Linked DNA regions of Homo sapiens. The protein of the gene in region 1 interacts with the protein of each later gene in a biochemical or structural test. Each region holds a gene or a part of one and is shown in the gene's direction. Other genes may lie near its edges.

Region 1 (3,500 bases):
TGTTGGAATTTAACACTGATGCCTTTCAATTGACATTATAATCCCTTACACAGCAGGTAACCTTGACCTTCTGTAGGAGCCCTCAAACATATGAAAGACATGGGGATCCCTGGAGAAGGTGCTTGTCAGAGCCCCCAGTTCAGTCAGTTCACTGTACCTGTAAATCCTTATAAGGACTTTCCTGATTTTGGTTCTCTTCTCTAACATGAGTCCCTACTCTACAGCTACATTCTGTGCATTCTCCAGGAATAAATAGAATTTTTTTTCCAATCCTGAAAACTCCAGAGTCCACATTTACAACCTAAGGACTCAACCACCCTTTTTGCTTTTAATATTACCATGTATTACATCCAATAGAGTTAGGTTGTAATATTGCCCAACATCAGTTAGTACTTCTACTTTGTGACTTCTATTTATATAGAGTGAATTAATTGCCAACTCTATTAATCTTGCAAAATCCATGAATCCTTAATGTTCAGTTTGCTTAGAATGAGGAACAGTGTATTTGTTTCTTCTTAGCTATGACTTCTTGCTGAGCTTCACATGAGCTCCTTTTAGATAACGTGCCTTCTATCTTGGACGATTTATTCACTTTCATGTTCCCTGGAATTTATTGCTAAACGTTGACGTGAATGCTTACAGTTTGGGCTCTAATGTAATCTCCTGAATGGCAATTAATAAATAAAAGATGGTTACTATTGCTGACAGAGAATCAGGGCTTTCTCAGATAGTTTTCATCTTCATGTTTTCACTAAACTTCATGTCAGACATCCCTAGGGGCTGATATTATAAAATATTTTCTGTAAACTCCAAAGCTTTTACTATTGCTTCTATACACCCAAACCTCTGTGATGCCTTTTGTTTTCTTGTCAGAAATCATCTTATTCAATTTCTGTTTCTTCAACTTATCTTCCTTCCTGGGAATATAAAAAATATGCCTCTTTCTGGATTTAATAGTGACATATCCTCAGTATTTATGACTTGCAAGTAACACCTGAAATTTGTCCCTGAAATTTTTTGTATTTTTTTTTTTGCTTAGTCTTATCTCTGTTGCATTTATTGAATATACTCTGTTGAATTTACTGAATACTGAATTGCACTTACCCTACATTAATAGCCAGTAGGGTTTATAAAATCTAGTGTTTATTGTCATCCTGTATATTGTTCAAAGTGCAAAGTTGTCTCCTATAAGTTAATGATGAAACTATAACGCAACATCCAATTTTTGCAGTTTGCCTACTTGACGAGGCTCCAGGGTTAATCTAGCCTAATATTCTTATTTTAGAAATGAGGACAATGTAGGGCAGTTTAAGTTGTTTGACCATAATCAAATAGAGGGTGCAGAGCAAATACATCTTTAGACAGTAAAGTACATGGTACACAGCAGAAAAGCTGGAACTAGGCTGCCTCGGCCCAGCTCCTGGTCTGGATGCTTATTAAGTGTTTAACTTTAGACAAGTTATGTCAATGCTGTGTGCCTCAATTTCTGAATCTGTAAAATGGGGCTAAAAGTAGTACCAGTAGCACAACTATAAGGATTATAGTAAGTTACTGTGGGTGAGGCATTTAGAATAGTGCTTAACACAGACTAAGCACTCCATGCATTATTAGCTATTACGATTATTCATTATGTTGACTATTTTTAACACGTTCGGATCATAGGTAAAGGTGTGTATTGCTATTTCACTTCACATAGGTATATATATACATCAGTGCTTTTTTGTACTTCTTTTGTATTCCTTAATGCTGTGTGCAGCTGCTAGTAGTAGTGTTCATAGTGGCAGTGATAATAGAAGCAAAAATAGTGATGATAGTAATAAAAGATAGTGCCGTTTATTGAGCCTTGCTAGGTGCTAGACATTGAAGTAGGTACTTTACATACATAATTCTTAATAGGTACTCTTGTCTATTGATAAATGACACAGTCGTTTTTTCCCAGAAATGCAAGTAGACTTCATGACAGTAGTCTCCTTCGTAACTGGAAAGGAACATGAGCTGTGGCCCTGGTGGAAAAGCTTTGACTGTAGAGACAAGAGCCCTGATAGAATTCCTTCTGTCTTAAAGATAATCCTGCTAATATTATATATTATATATATATATATAATATATATATATAATGCTGCTAATATTTATATAACCTAATCCTGTTATTGATAATTGAGAGACTAGCTGGGGGTGGGAATGGAGGTCAAGGAATGGAGTGGGAGGGGGCAGGTAGAGGGCAAGGCAAACCGCACAAATGAAAAACATTATATACCAGAAAAGCAATGATTCAAATTCAGTTGTGCTCTATATTTTCTGTTTTATAATTTTATATTGCATTAAAAGGTTGCCTCTTTTCTAGATACCAAATAGGAATACATTCAGAACTATAGCATCGACACAGAAAAGTTGTTTTCTTTCTTGCTTTGCTTGCTTGATTGATTGATTAAATAAATGGCAGTTACCATACATTAATAGCCAATAGGGTAAGGTAAAGTGTTTAATTAGAAAAATCACAGTCACTTCAATGTTCTTTTATTTCCATGCCCAGTATGTTCCTTACTAATCATATGAGCAACCATGGCAATGATAAAAGCTGTCAGGTGTGGGAGTGCTAGGACGATACTGGAAGAGAAGCTCTCGTCATGTTAGGTGCTTGGTATGTTTGTGTGTGTGTCTGTGAGTATGCATGTGTGTATGTGGGTATTCTCACATATGTGAAATCACTCTCATTCACATACATAGTCTCTATAAATAGCTACAGCCTTTCAAATTCATAGGTGTGTGTGTATATGCCTATAGACACACATGCATATACACTTCTGCATAGAGAGAAATGTACCTATAGTCATATTAAATTTTATCACAGCTTTAGAAAAGGAAACAGAGGCTCAGAGAAGTCAAACCACTTGTTCAAGGTTACAAAAGGTGGCAAAGCTGGAGTATAACCCCAACTCCCACCCACTTAACACCCCTTTTTTGGGATGTCCAGACAGAAATATTCTTAGAACAATAGCATTACACCACACTGCCCCATTAGAAGAGGGGTGACCTTTTGCCCTTTCTTTTCCAGAATCTCCAAGCAAAGATTTTGGTCCAACTCTGGGTTTGAAAAAGTCCAGCTCCTTGGAGAGTCTGCAGACTGCAGTGGCCGAGGTCAGGAAGAATGACCTTCCCTTTCACAGGCCCCGGCCGCACATGGTTCGAGGCCGAGGCTGCAATGAGAGCTTTAGAGCAGCCATTGACAAATCCTACGATGGACCTGAAGAAATAGAAGCTGGTAGGATGATATGCTTCCTTAAATGGCTTCTTCATCTCATTATTATCTGCAAATCATGGGCAAGAATGTGTGCTCAACTACAGAAAAAAATGATTTAAGGATCACAATTATATTTTTGATATTAAAAGTAATTCATTTTCCTGATATGTTTTGCCCTTTGGCTTAATGAACATGGAATTGGAGAACACAATATGCAATTTATTTTACAGTGCAAGGCTAAATAAATGTTCTCCTTCAC
Region 2 (3,500 bases), on another chromosome or scaffold:
AATGGAGATGATGACATTTACATCATGGGCTATAGGATGACTATTGAAATTTACACACATTGTAACACATGCTGGGCACTGCAGTGTTTGCTTTATGAACATTTTCTCATTAATTTTCACAACAGTTCGGTGAAGTGGGAACTATTAATGTATTGATGTGGAAATTGGAGCTCCAAGAAATTAAGAGACTTCTCCAAGGTCACACATCTGGCAGGTTGGTTCAAGAGGCTGGATTTAAACTTCAGGAGCCTGATTCCAGACCTGGAGACTTTTAGTTGCTTGAACACAGCATGTGAAGCCCTCAGGTGCAGGCAAACAGTGCAGACCAGTGAGGCTCAGCTGCTGCTGCTGTGATTATTGTTTGAATTATTATTTTTCCCCATTCTTGTAATGTCCTAGGACATTACTGTCTGCTCCTCACAGTCAGATGGGATTATCATTGTCTTGTATCATTTTCCAATGGTTTCCAACATAGGAGGCTTTTCTGTCCCACATCTTTGTATTCTGTCAGCGGCACCATCTGCCTCCACAGAGCCCAGTGGTTCTCAGGAGTTGCTCAGTGGTTCAGGGTCTCTGGACCCTTTGCCAGTAACCAAGAAGTGAGCTGTAATTTCACCTAATAGCTCCACAGCCACCTGTCACCTCTGTTTGACTTCCCAGGCATTAGTATCATTTGAAGACGTGGTTGTGACCTTCACTGGAGAGGAATGGGGGCACCTGGACCTGGCCCAGAGGACCCTGTACCAGGAGGTGATGCTGGAGACCTGCAGGCTCCTGGTCTCACTGGGTAAGACCTCATTACCCTCCCATGTAGGGGACCCACAGCCTCTTTGAATCCACCCTTTCTAGGCATGGCTGGTCCAGGAGCCTCAGAACCCAACCTTCCCTGATCCCTGCAGCCTCAGCACGTTGTGGTCTGACCTCCTCTTGCTGGGTTTCCCTGTGTCTCAATCAAAGATTGTTATGTAAGAAACACAGTCCTCCTCAACACTTTTATCCCACTGTCTAGCACAGCTGGCCTCAGTCTGACATCTTTATCCCAGACTGCCACAAGAGGTAATTGGCCCAGCTTGGTTGAGTCAAATGTCCTCACAGCCCAGTTAGCAGGACCTGTGGATAATGGGAGGTTCTACAAGCAGCGGGTGATTGACACAGACACTAAGAAGGTGTTTGTTATCAGTGCTGCTTATATCTTTTTCAGCAACACAGTCTCAGCTGAAAGGTCTCTTTGGCTCCTAGCACCTGCACAGTTAACCCTTACTTCCTAAGGCCTGTGCCTTGCTCCTCTGCTGCTACAGGAGATGATTATGATTATGGAAAGGGAGCACAGACACATTCTCAAATGGCATGGATGTATGCTATCTGAGAAAGCTGTTCTTTTTTTCTTTTCTCTTTCCTGTCTCTTGAATGTTGAGTGTTGGCTTAGGGCTGAATCTTTAACACTCCCATAGCTGTTGGTGAATTTCCTCCTCAGTAGAAAGAGTAGCCTCAAACTCCTAGCCTCAAGCAGGCAGCAGGAACTTGCTGGGACCTGTTATCATTTTGATTTTGCCATTTTTATAGTAACCTGTCACAGCAAGGTAACTAATATGTGTAAAGTGCTTAGAATAGAGCTGGAAACATAGCAAGTGTTCTGCATGTGTTTGTTACATTTAACAAATTAATAAATACCAAATGCTCTCCCACCTAAACCTTTAATGGACAGTTTGCCCAGAAGTTGGTCTGAGTAGATATGAATGGAGGCCCAAAGTCTCACTTATTCCAGTTGTTCAAATGGTTACCATCGACAGGGCTCTCCCAGTCCTGCGTCCTCACGAGGGATGAGTCATTAATGAAGTAAACGTGGTGTTATTTTATGACAACTGTGATTAGTTGTCGAAAGGAGATGTATGGGGAACAGCATTCCAGGAGGAGGGACCAACATGAGCAGCATCCCTGTGGGAGCAGGGTGCTTGATTCCTTAACAGAGATGAAGGCAGGCCTGATTCCCCTTTAATGCTGCTCATCACCCAGCTCAGTGCCAAGCATATGGCAGAACATTTGCTGAGTGTGCATGTGGCATGTAAGTGTGCGTAATCCTATGGTGAACATTTGCTAAGTGACAGCTGGATGCGTGCCAGGACAAGATTTTCCAGTTGATGCTTCTGGGTCCTGGTGCCTCAGTCATTGACTTCTCTCCAGAGTCTTCTGTCTTAGCCTTCACAGTTGGCAAAATGTGTGTGGCTGCATGTGGAAGAAGACCACCTCCTGCCAGTTTCACCCTGAAAATAATTTCTTACTTTACCTAATGAGAAGCCCTGAGGTGCTGCTGACTCCTGGCTTGGTCAGTGCCAATCCATGCTAACCCAGTTCTCTGTCTGCTTTCTCTCCTTGGTCTAGGGCCCTGGCCAGTATCCTTGTGGGGCAGTAGGCCTCCATGTTCAGCTTCAGTCACTGGCCTGCCTCACACAACTGACTATCAATAGATGCCATTCATCAGGCGATTTAGTCCTGTGTTTTTCAACCATCATGGGCACCAAAATCACCTGGGGAGCTTTAAAAACTACCAGCACTCAGTCCTTCTGCTCAGAGATTTGGTTTAATTTGTTCTGTTTTTGGAACTGGGTGTTGCTAGGTAGTTTTGATGCACAGGGTGGTTGAATCCTACTGACTTAGGTTAATTAGGGAATACTTTTGGTGAGGCAGGGGAGGGCCCTTTCTGGGGTTTCATTGCAGTATGTTAAATATATGTACTCCTTTACACCTCAGACTTTTCTTTTTGTCTTTCCCTGTACACCATACTCCATTTGTTTCTCCATGCACAGGGCATCCTGTTCCCAAACCAGAGCTGATCTATCTACTGGAACATGGACAGGAACTGTGGACAGTGAAGAGAGGCCTCTCCCAAAGCACCTGCGCAGGTTGGTGACTGAGAGTCTGGCAGCGGGTATCAGGGCAGCCTGCAGACCACCCAGGCATCACTGTGTCTGAAATGCCATGGGCAGCTATTTTGTGGTCTTGAGCAGTCATGGAGCCCTTGACCCCATGGTCCCCCGTCTTCCCACTTCTGTCACACACTCTTTGCCTTTATTCAGGTTGGAATATGTTAGGTAGGAGACAGATTCTAGGCTTTAATGATTTGCCACTCACTAGCCTCATGACTCTGGAGAGGTTGTGTGACGTCACTGTGCCTTTGGTATATAAGTTAGGCTGAGTTAATGACCTTCTCTGAAAAATAAACTCCAAAATCATGTGACTCAACAGATTAAGTTTCGTTTTGTTTTGTTTTTTTATCCATGCCATAGCCCAATGTGGGTCAGCAGGAAAGCTGTGTACCCTGTATTTATTTATGGATCACATGCATTCTGTTGTCAATATGCAGCTTTAAGGTTGCCCCGGCCAAGAGGAATGGGAGAGAAGGGCAGTAGTCACTTCCATTAACATTTCATCCACAAGAACTGGGTATTAGGCTACATGTTGTATCAGGCTGGGAAATGTGGTTTAGCTTTTTTATACCCAAG
Region 3 (4,162 bases), on another chromosome or scaffold:
TTATCAAAACTCTACATAAGGCTTACAAACTATTAAGACCAAAAGCACAAATACAGAGATAGATGCACTCTCTTCCAGTACAGAAACTGCCACTTTCAGCTTCCTTAGATTTTAAATTTTGGCCTCATCTTTATTTGCCTGATTTCATTCCTTTGAGATATAGTTGGTATTTGCAAATACAGGAAGTGTCTAACTTTTGCTTGATTTAAATAAAGTTTTAAAACCCTGAACAAATATAGTAGTACCCCATGTAAACTATAGCGTCGACTTCTAAAGTTTGAATACAATTCCAATACTCTGTTAAGTTGGCTTATATTATGTCACGGCTAAAAGAGAATTCCCCTCACAAATGCAGTTACTATTTAGTGGGAGATTCTGTAAAACTCAGCGTCAACAAAGCTCTTCCAGTTATGTCTCCTGCTTCTGGGACGGCCAGGACCTCTCCTGTACCACCCCTTCCTCTCCCTTTCCCCCAAAGGCACCTTTCAGAATTACTCTGAATGATGGAGCCCATTTTTTTCTAGAACTATAGGAAAGCTGCTTGGTAACTATGGTAACGAATACAAAAATGTTTTTTACTTATAATTGAATGCTTATTTAAAATTACAAGTATTATTTTTTCTTCCTTGAGTTTTAAGTCTATTAATGGGTTTGATTACAAAAAAGAAATCAGTACAAAGGCATCAGAAGTACTTAAAATATTCTAGTTTAATGCCGCCAGCCTTTTCCAAACTCAGTCCATCAGTATACCAAAATGACCTACTAAAATTTCAAATGAAAGGATTTAAAATGAATTTAAATATTTGCCTTTCTAACCCTATACGTCAACGCTGTAACAAGCTAAGACTGTTTCTCAGTGTTAGCAGCCTTGGCCATAACAGGCCCGAGGCAGATGTCCTAGTTTCCAGGCCAGGGTGTCTAGGACGTGACTGGTTATCAGCTCAGAGCAGCACTTGGAACTCACAAGGGACCCGGGCTAAGGAGATATTAAATCTTAAATCTTAGATATTAGATATTACAACTGAGAACTGTAATCAACATGATATACAGAGGACACTGAAGAGACGTACAACTCAGTTCCTGATGATTATCATATGCCCAAAAGCTAAGTCACGACCACATGCACAGACACAGAAACAATGCTGGCCACTGTCTACAAAAGGGTCTTCATTCAACACTCTCACGGTGTTCAAGACCATTAGAGGACAAGATAGTGGAGATGAAAAAATGATGAGGAAGTTACTATGTAAATAGCCAAGACACAGCCATAACTTAAGACAACAGAAGGGCTAGTGAAAAAAAAAAAAAAGACCACAGGGAATAATCAGTAAGACTTTAAAGAACAACATATAAGAAGGATTCAAAGTTCGAAGTGGGATGATCACGGGCAGACCTGGGTGGTTGGGAACAGGAAGCATATGGCATCTTGCAGGCTATAGGCACCACAAAATGGAACGCAGGAGGACAGGGGCTTGGGAGAGCCACTTCACTGTCGGGTAAAACAACGGAGCAAGATGAGTGCCTCCGGATGCTTGGTTTCCCCACCCTCCAGTGTCTGCTTGCTCTTCAAGTACCTCCACCAAGCTAATGACAGTCCACTTTAGGACATCACGGGCCTCGAGGTTACAACTTTCCCAGGTAAGGAGAATCCCAGGTAGAGGCAGCAAGTCACTGATGCCTGTGATATGATAATTATGCATGTCATAGAAAAAGAAAATACTGACAAATGTGAATGTAGATCACATTTTCTGGAATTGGTTCACTCTACCTGTGATCCATGTCCAAAAGCCAATTTAAGGAAAGAATTTCCACTGTAAAACCTTAAAGCTGACAGCATTCTAAGTATTTCAAACCAACTGGTTCAATAAAGATCAACTACACGGTCAGTACCTATCCTAAAGTTTACAATTTGTGTTATTGTAACAATATTTATTTCTGCAGAAGTTCTGTCCTCACCCTTTTTTCTTCCTACAGATCTTTGTTTTTTTCTCTTTCTTCTTGGGATCATAAAAAAAGAACAGATTTTAAACAGTCACATAGTGTTTCCTCTCAGAGCAGATGTGGTAGGAAGAACTGAGGCCAAGAGAATGACAGCAAACTCAGATCACAAGAGAAATAAGACTAAGAAATGTGGTGAGGGGGATGAAGAGTTTTTTTACTGTGTAAATTATGTAAATGTACATATGTATGTATGTAAATTACACCTATTAGTAATAACAACAACAAGATGAGTCAGTGTCTCTTGGTCCCAAGAGATTAAACAATTTCAGGGAGATGCACGTGTAATCCTCAAGAAAGCACAAATGGAACAAGAACTGACAATTGTTGTATAAAGGTTTTCTGTTACATTTAATCTGGAGTTCCTGGATGATCAGAGGGAAAAGACCTTCCTAAAACTAGGCCTTTTCCACAAACCACGCCCTTGGTGTCTGTGAAGCAGCAGCATCTGGACGTGCCCTGTGTTTCCTGTCCCGGGCTGTGCTCCCGCTTGGGTTTGTGGATGTGGCAGGAGCTGCCTGAGGCAGCTTCGAGGCTGCCCAGCCGGGCCATGGGTGTGGCAGCACATTGGCAACTGCCAGGGTCTGGACCCCAGCGCTGCAGGTCCTGAGCAACTCCCGTCCCTCAGAGAGAAGACAGGACCTCAGAGAGGCTCTCAATCTAAACAAACTCAGAAGGCACTTGATAAATGCTGCTAGTAATATTATTAAAAGACTGAGAAATAGAACATGCATACAAATATAGTAATTCATAATAAACCATAATTATCAAACGGACTAGACATCACACTGAAGATGCTTGGTCAGTACATTCGTATATTCATAGCTGATACTGTTAATTTCCTAAGGCTGGGACAGAAGAAGAACATTATTTTAGGATTAGGTCAAATCACTTTAAATTTGTAGGGCTGGAACAGGTAACTATTTTATCTTACTCTGAACTGTCATTATTTTCAAGATTGAATGGAAAGCAAAGAAGAAAAAACATTTGTATTAGGGTTCTCTAGAGGGACAGAACTAATGGAATATATATATATGAGTTTATTAAATATAAATATTAAATATATTTATATATAATATAAATATATATTATATATAATATATAATATATATTTAATATATAATATGTAAATATTAAATATATATATAAAGAAGAGTTTATTAAGTATTAACTCACATGATCACAAGGTCCCACAATAGGCCATCTGCAGGCTGAGAAGCAAGGAGAGCCAGTCCAAGTTCCAAAACTGAAGAACTTGGGAGTCCAATGTTTGAGGATAGGAAGCATCCAGCACGTGAGAAAAGATGTGGGCTGGGAGGCTAAGCCAGTCTCTCTTTTCACATTTTTCTGCCCACTTATATTCTAGCTGAGCCGGCAGCTGATTAGATGGTGCCCACCCAGATTGAGGGCGGGTCTACCTTCCCCACCTCACTGACTCAAATGTTAATCTCCTTTGACAACACCCTCACAGATACACCCAGGATCAATACTTTGTATCCTTCAATCCAATCAAGTTGACACTCAGTGTTAACCATCACAACATTTTTTTTAAAATTCAGAACCCCAACTTTTCATTAGAATTAAATGGACAGCATTTGAAAAATACAAGGATGGGGCTCCATCCCAGAAAATTAAATAAAAGCCACTGGGTTGGGCCTGAGCCTCTTGGGGCTTTTCCAAAGCCCTCGTGTGGGCAGAAATGAGAATCACAGGTTTGGGGAACAATCCTAGTTGCTTGGGAAAGTATCACACAGTCAACTCAAATCCTGGAGATTAAATTCACTAGAAGTGCAGCTAGAGCCCTGTGACACCCACAAAGCCAGCCTGAGTCCCTGCTGGATACAGCTCACCAGGGGGGATGAAAAGCCAGATACAAACTTCCCCAGTCTCGCTCACAGTTAAGAATGACCAAATGAGGCTGGGCGCTGTGGCTCACACCTGTAATCCCAGCACTTTGGAAGGCCAAAGCGGGCGAATCATGAGGTCAGGAGATCGAGACCATCCTGGCTAACACGGTGAAACCCCGTCTCTACTAAAAAATACAAAAAATTAGCCAGGCGTGGTGGCGGCCGCCTGTAGTCCCCGCTACTTGGGAGGCTGAGGCAGGAGAATGGCGTGAGCCTGGGAGGCGGAGCTTGCAGTGAGCTGAGATCGTGCCACTGCA
Region 4 (3,500 bases), on another chromosome or scaffold:
ATCTTCCGCATCATGCGAATTCTCCGCATCCTTAAGCTTGCACGCCACTCCACTGGCCTCCAGTCTCTGGGCTTCACTTTGCGGAGGAGCTACAATGAGTTGGGCTTGCTCATCCTCTTCCTTGCCATGGGCATTATGATCTTCTCCAGCCTTGTCTTCTTTGCTGAGAAGGATGAGGACGACACCAAGTTCAAAAGCATCCCAGCCTCTTTCTGGTGGGCCACCATCACCATGACTACTGTTGGGTATGGAGACATCTACCCCAAGACTCTCCTGGGGAAAATTGTTGGGGGACTCTGCTGCATTGCAGGAGTCCTGGTGATTGCTCTTCCCATCCCCATCATCGTCAATAACTTCTCTGAGTTCTATAAGGAGCAGAAGAGACAGGAGAAAGCAATCAAACGGCGAGAGGCTCTGGAGAGAGCCAAGAGGAATGGCAGCATCGTATCCATGAACATGAAGGATGCTTTTGCCCGGAGCATTGAGATGATGGACATTGTGGTTGAGAAAAATGGGGAGAATATGGGTAAGAAAGACAAAGTACAAGATAACCACTTGTCTCCTAACAAATGGAAATGGACAAAGAGGACACTGTCTGAAACCAGCTCAAGTAAGTCCTTTGAAACCAAGGAACAGGGATCCCCTGAAAAAGCCAGATCGTCTTCTAGTCCTCAGCACCTGAACGTTCAGCAGTTGGAAGACATGTACAATAAGATGGCCAAGACCCAATCCCAACCCATCCTCAATACCAAGGAGTCAGCAGCACAGAGCAAACCAAAGGAAGAACTTGAAATGGAGAGTATCCCCAGCCCCGTAGCCCCTCTGCCCACTCGCACAGAAGGGGTCATTGACATGCGAAGTATGTCAAGCATTGATAGTTTCATTAGCTGTGCCACAGACTTCCCTGAGGCCACCAGATTCTCCCACAGCCCTTTGACATCACTCCCCAGCAAGACTGGGGGCAGCACAGCCCCAGAAGTGGGCTGGCGGGGAGCTCTGGGTGCCAGTGGTGGTAGGTTTGTGGAGGCCAACCCCAGCCCTGATGCCAGCCAGCACTCTAGTTTCTTCATCGAGAGCCCCAAGAGTTCCATGAAAACTAACAACCCTTTGAAGCTCCGAGCACTTAAAGTCAACTTCATGGAGGGTGACCCCAGTCCACTCCTCCCCGTTCTAGGGATGTACCATGACCCTCTCAGGAACCGGGGGAGTGCTGCGGCTGCTGTCGCTGGACTGGAGTGTGCCACGCTTTTGGACAAGGCTGTGCTGAGCCCAGAGTCCTCCATCTACACCACAGCAAGTGCTAAGACACCCCCCCGGTCTCCTGAGAAACACACAGCAATAGCGTTCAACTTTGAGGCGGGTGTCCACCAGTACATTGACGCAGACACAGATGATGAGGGACAGCTGCTCTACAGTGTGGACTCCAGCCCCCCCAAAAGCCTCCCTGGGAGCACCAGTCCGAAGTTCAGCACGGGGACAAGATCGGAGAAAAACCACTTTGAAAGCTCCCCTTTACCCACCTCCCCTAAGTTCTTAAGGCAGAACTGTATTTACTCCACAGAAGCATTGACTGGAAAAGGCCCCAGTGGTCAGGAAAAGTGCAAACTTGAGAACCACATCTCCCCTGACGTCCGTGTGTTGCCAGGGGGAGGAGCCCATGGAAGCACACGAGATCAGAGCATCTGAACTGCCCTGCCTTGGAGGAGAGACTTTTGGGTGAGGTCCAAAGAGGAGAGCTGTTCAGCTTACCTGCCACAGAGCTTTTCTGCATGAACTCTGGAACAGAAAGGCCCTGTAAAGCCCTCAGAGAGAAGAGAGACTCCAGAGAAGGCTCCCTAAGACCTTGAGAGCCATGACAGGTCCATCAGCATGAAGTTGGCCAAGCCATAGGGCACAGCACCTCCTTGTAACAACTCTATAGCCCTCTTTGGGAGATGACATGAGTGGAACTCACAGCCACCACTACCACCACTTTAGACAGGACCGAGGCCACATACTCCCCATTCTCTCGTGGCTTTCCATCTCAGCCTCGGAGGGCAACATTGACAGTCCTCCTGGCTTCAGCTAGAGAAGGATGCTGGAACAAGCGGCTGGTGTTGAAAGAGTGGGTTGACCAATTTGGTATTGAATGTTGCCCAGCCACCCCTAGGAACACCTGTCCATCACCTCCTGGATGGATTCCACTGTTAGACAGCTACAGGGAATGATTGGTCATGGGGAAGTCTCTGCGCCATAAGCCACGATCCCAGCGCAAAACCCTTACTCAAATGTCTTCATTGACTTCGGTATTTCATAGTACCTGAGATTTTATTTTGAGATACCATCAGGGTGAGTTGCACCACTTGTACTCAATTCTAATTGCCCCCTGGCAATCTGGGAAGGGTTCAGAAGGTGGGCACCCAGCCAACAGCATGAACTCAGAGCATTGTTTTAGGGTTGGAGGAGGAACACGCTTTCTTTACATCACTAGTGTAGACTCAAAAGATATGCAAGTGTCAAATATGCAAAAGAAATAGTTTATTCAAAGAGACTGTGTGTTACTGAAGAACAGCATAAAAATATGATTTTTTTACTTGCAAAAATGAAAGGAAAAAAATACCACGCATTGAAATGCCCAGTTCAGACTGAATAATTCCTGCTGCAGCAAGGAAAGTACCTACTATAATAGAAATTCTGTTTTGTTTTCTGTGGTTTTCAAGTTAAAAAAAAAAAAGTTAAAATAAAAAGCACTTTATGTTTTTCAAAAATAGGTTCTGCCAGGGACAGTGTCAACATCTTGCACTTTAAAATAAGCACTATTTCCCATAGCCCAATTGTTGGGACTGTAGTTGGATTGTTGCTACCTGCCCATTTCTGGCCAGCATGGGTAATATTGTGCTGGTATTACTGTCTGCCATATCAAAGTCTGTGGGCTCCTTCCCTGCCCCTCTGAAACCTTCCCTTAACCCTCATGGGTCAGGAGGGGTTCTTGCCCCTTGGGTGGGGCCTCTCATGAAGTCAAGTATACAGGAGACATGCACATCTCAAAAGGACACAGTGACAGTTGGACATTGGGTGTTTTACTCTGTTCTCTTTCTTGTCAACCAGCTATTGGTTTTTCAGTGTCACTGTCTGTACTAAAAGCTCAACTCTCCTTCCTGCAGCCATCGATGCAGCCAGTACAGACAAAAGCAATAAGTATTTGTGTGCATCCTGAGTGGTTCTGGTGTATTTCTTGGTGTTGGTTTTCCTGTCCTCGTTTGATGACCTGGCATTGTCCTGCCTGCTTTTAGTCCAACAGCATGGTGTTGTTGGCCATTCCTCAGTACAGTGGCATTAGGTTGAACCACTGATGAATACAATGCTATAGTGTTGGCTCACCTGTCAGTAAAGATGACATGTTATTGGTCTGCCTGTCTGTAGTACAATGGAACAATGTTGTTCTCTTAATGTAATGTTGATGGATGATGTCCCAAGTACAATAGTGTAGTTCTGTCTATCCTCAATACAGTAACAGGCAT

Evidence for each region. Proteins that work in one complex are often made in the same cells at the same time.
Region 2: the proteins of PARD3B (region 1) and ZNF599 interact in a test that uses a peptide from one of them, tested with the Homo sapiens proteins (one large-scale study listed by IntAct).
Region 3: the proteins of PARD3B (region 1) and CLDN20 interact in a test that uses a peptide from one of them, tested with the Homo sapiens proteins (one large-scale study listed by IntAct).
Region 4: the proteins of PARD3B (region 1) and KCNB1 interact in a test that uses a peptide from one of them, tested with the Homo sapiens proteins (one large-scale study listed by IntAct).

The regions. Positions count from the first base shown.
Region 1 is NC_000002.12:205,297,475-205,300,974, forward strand, and holds part of PARD3B (partitioning defective 3 homolog B), read left to right. Parts: intron 1-3,055; coding exon 3,056-3,262; intron 3,263-3,500. UniProt on the Homo sapiens protein: Putative adapter protein involved in asymmetrical cell division and cell polarization processes. May play a role in the formation of epithelial tight junctions.
Region 2 is NC_000019.10:34,766,716-34,770,215, reverse strand, and holds part of ZNF599 (zinc finger protein 599), read left to right. Parts: intron 1-660; coding exon 661-787; intron 788-2,804; coding exon 2,805-2,900; intron 2,901-3,500. UniProt on the Homo sapiens protein: May be involved in transcriptional regulation.
Region 3 is NC_000006.12:155,262,651-155,266,812, forward strand, and holds the start of CLDN20 (claudin-20 precursor), read left to right. Parts: upstream 1-1,362; 5' UTR 1,363-1,638; intron 1,639-4,162. UniProt on the Homo sapiens protein: Plays a major role in tight junction-specific obliteration of the intercellular space, through calcium-independent cell-adhesion activity.
Region 4 is NC_000020.11:49,371,169-49,374,668, reverse strand, and holds part of KCNB1 (potassium voltage-gated channel subfamily B member 1), read left to right. Parts: coding exon 1-1,686; 3' UTR 1,687-3,500. UniProt on the Homo sapiens protein: Voltage-gated potassium channel that mediates transmembrane potassium transport in excitable membranes, primarily in the brain, but also in the pancreas and cardiovascular system.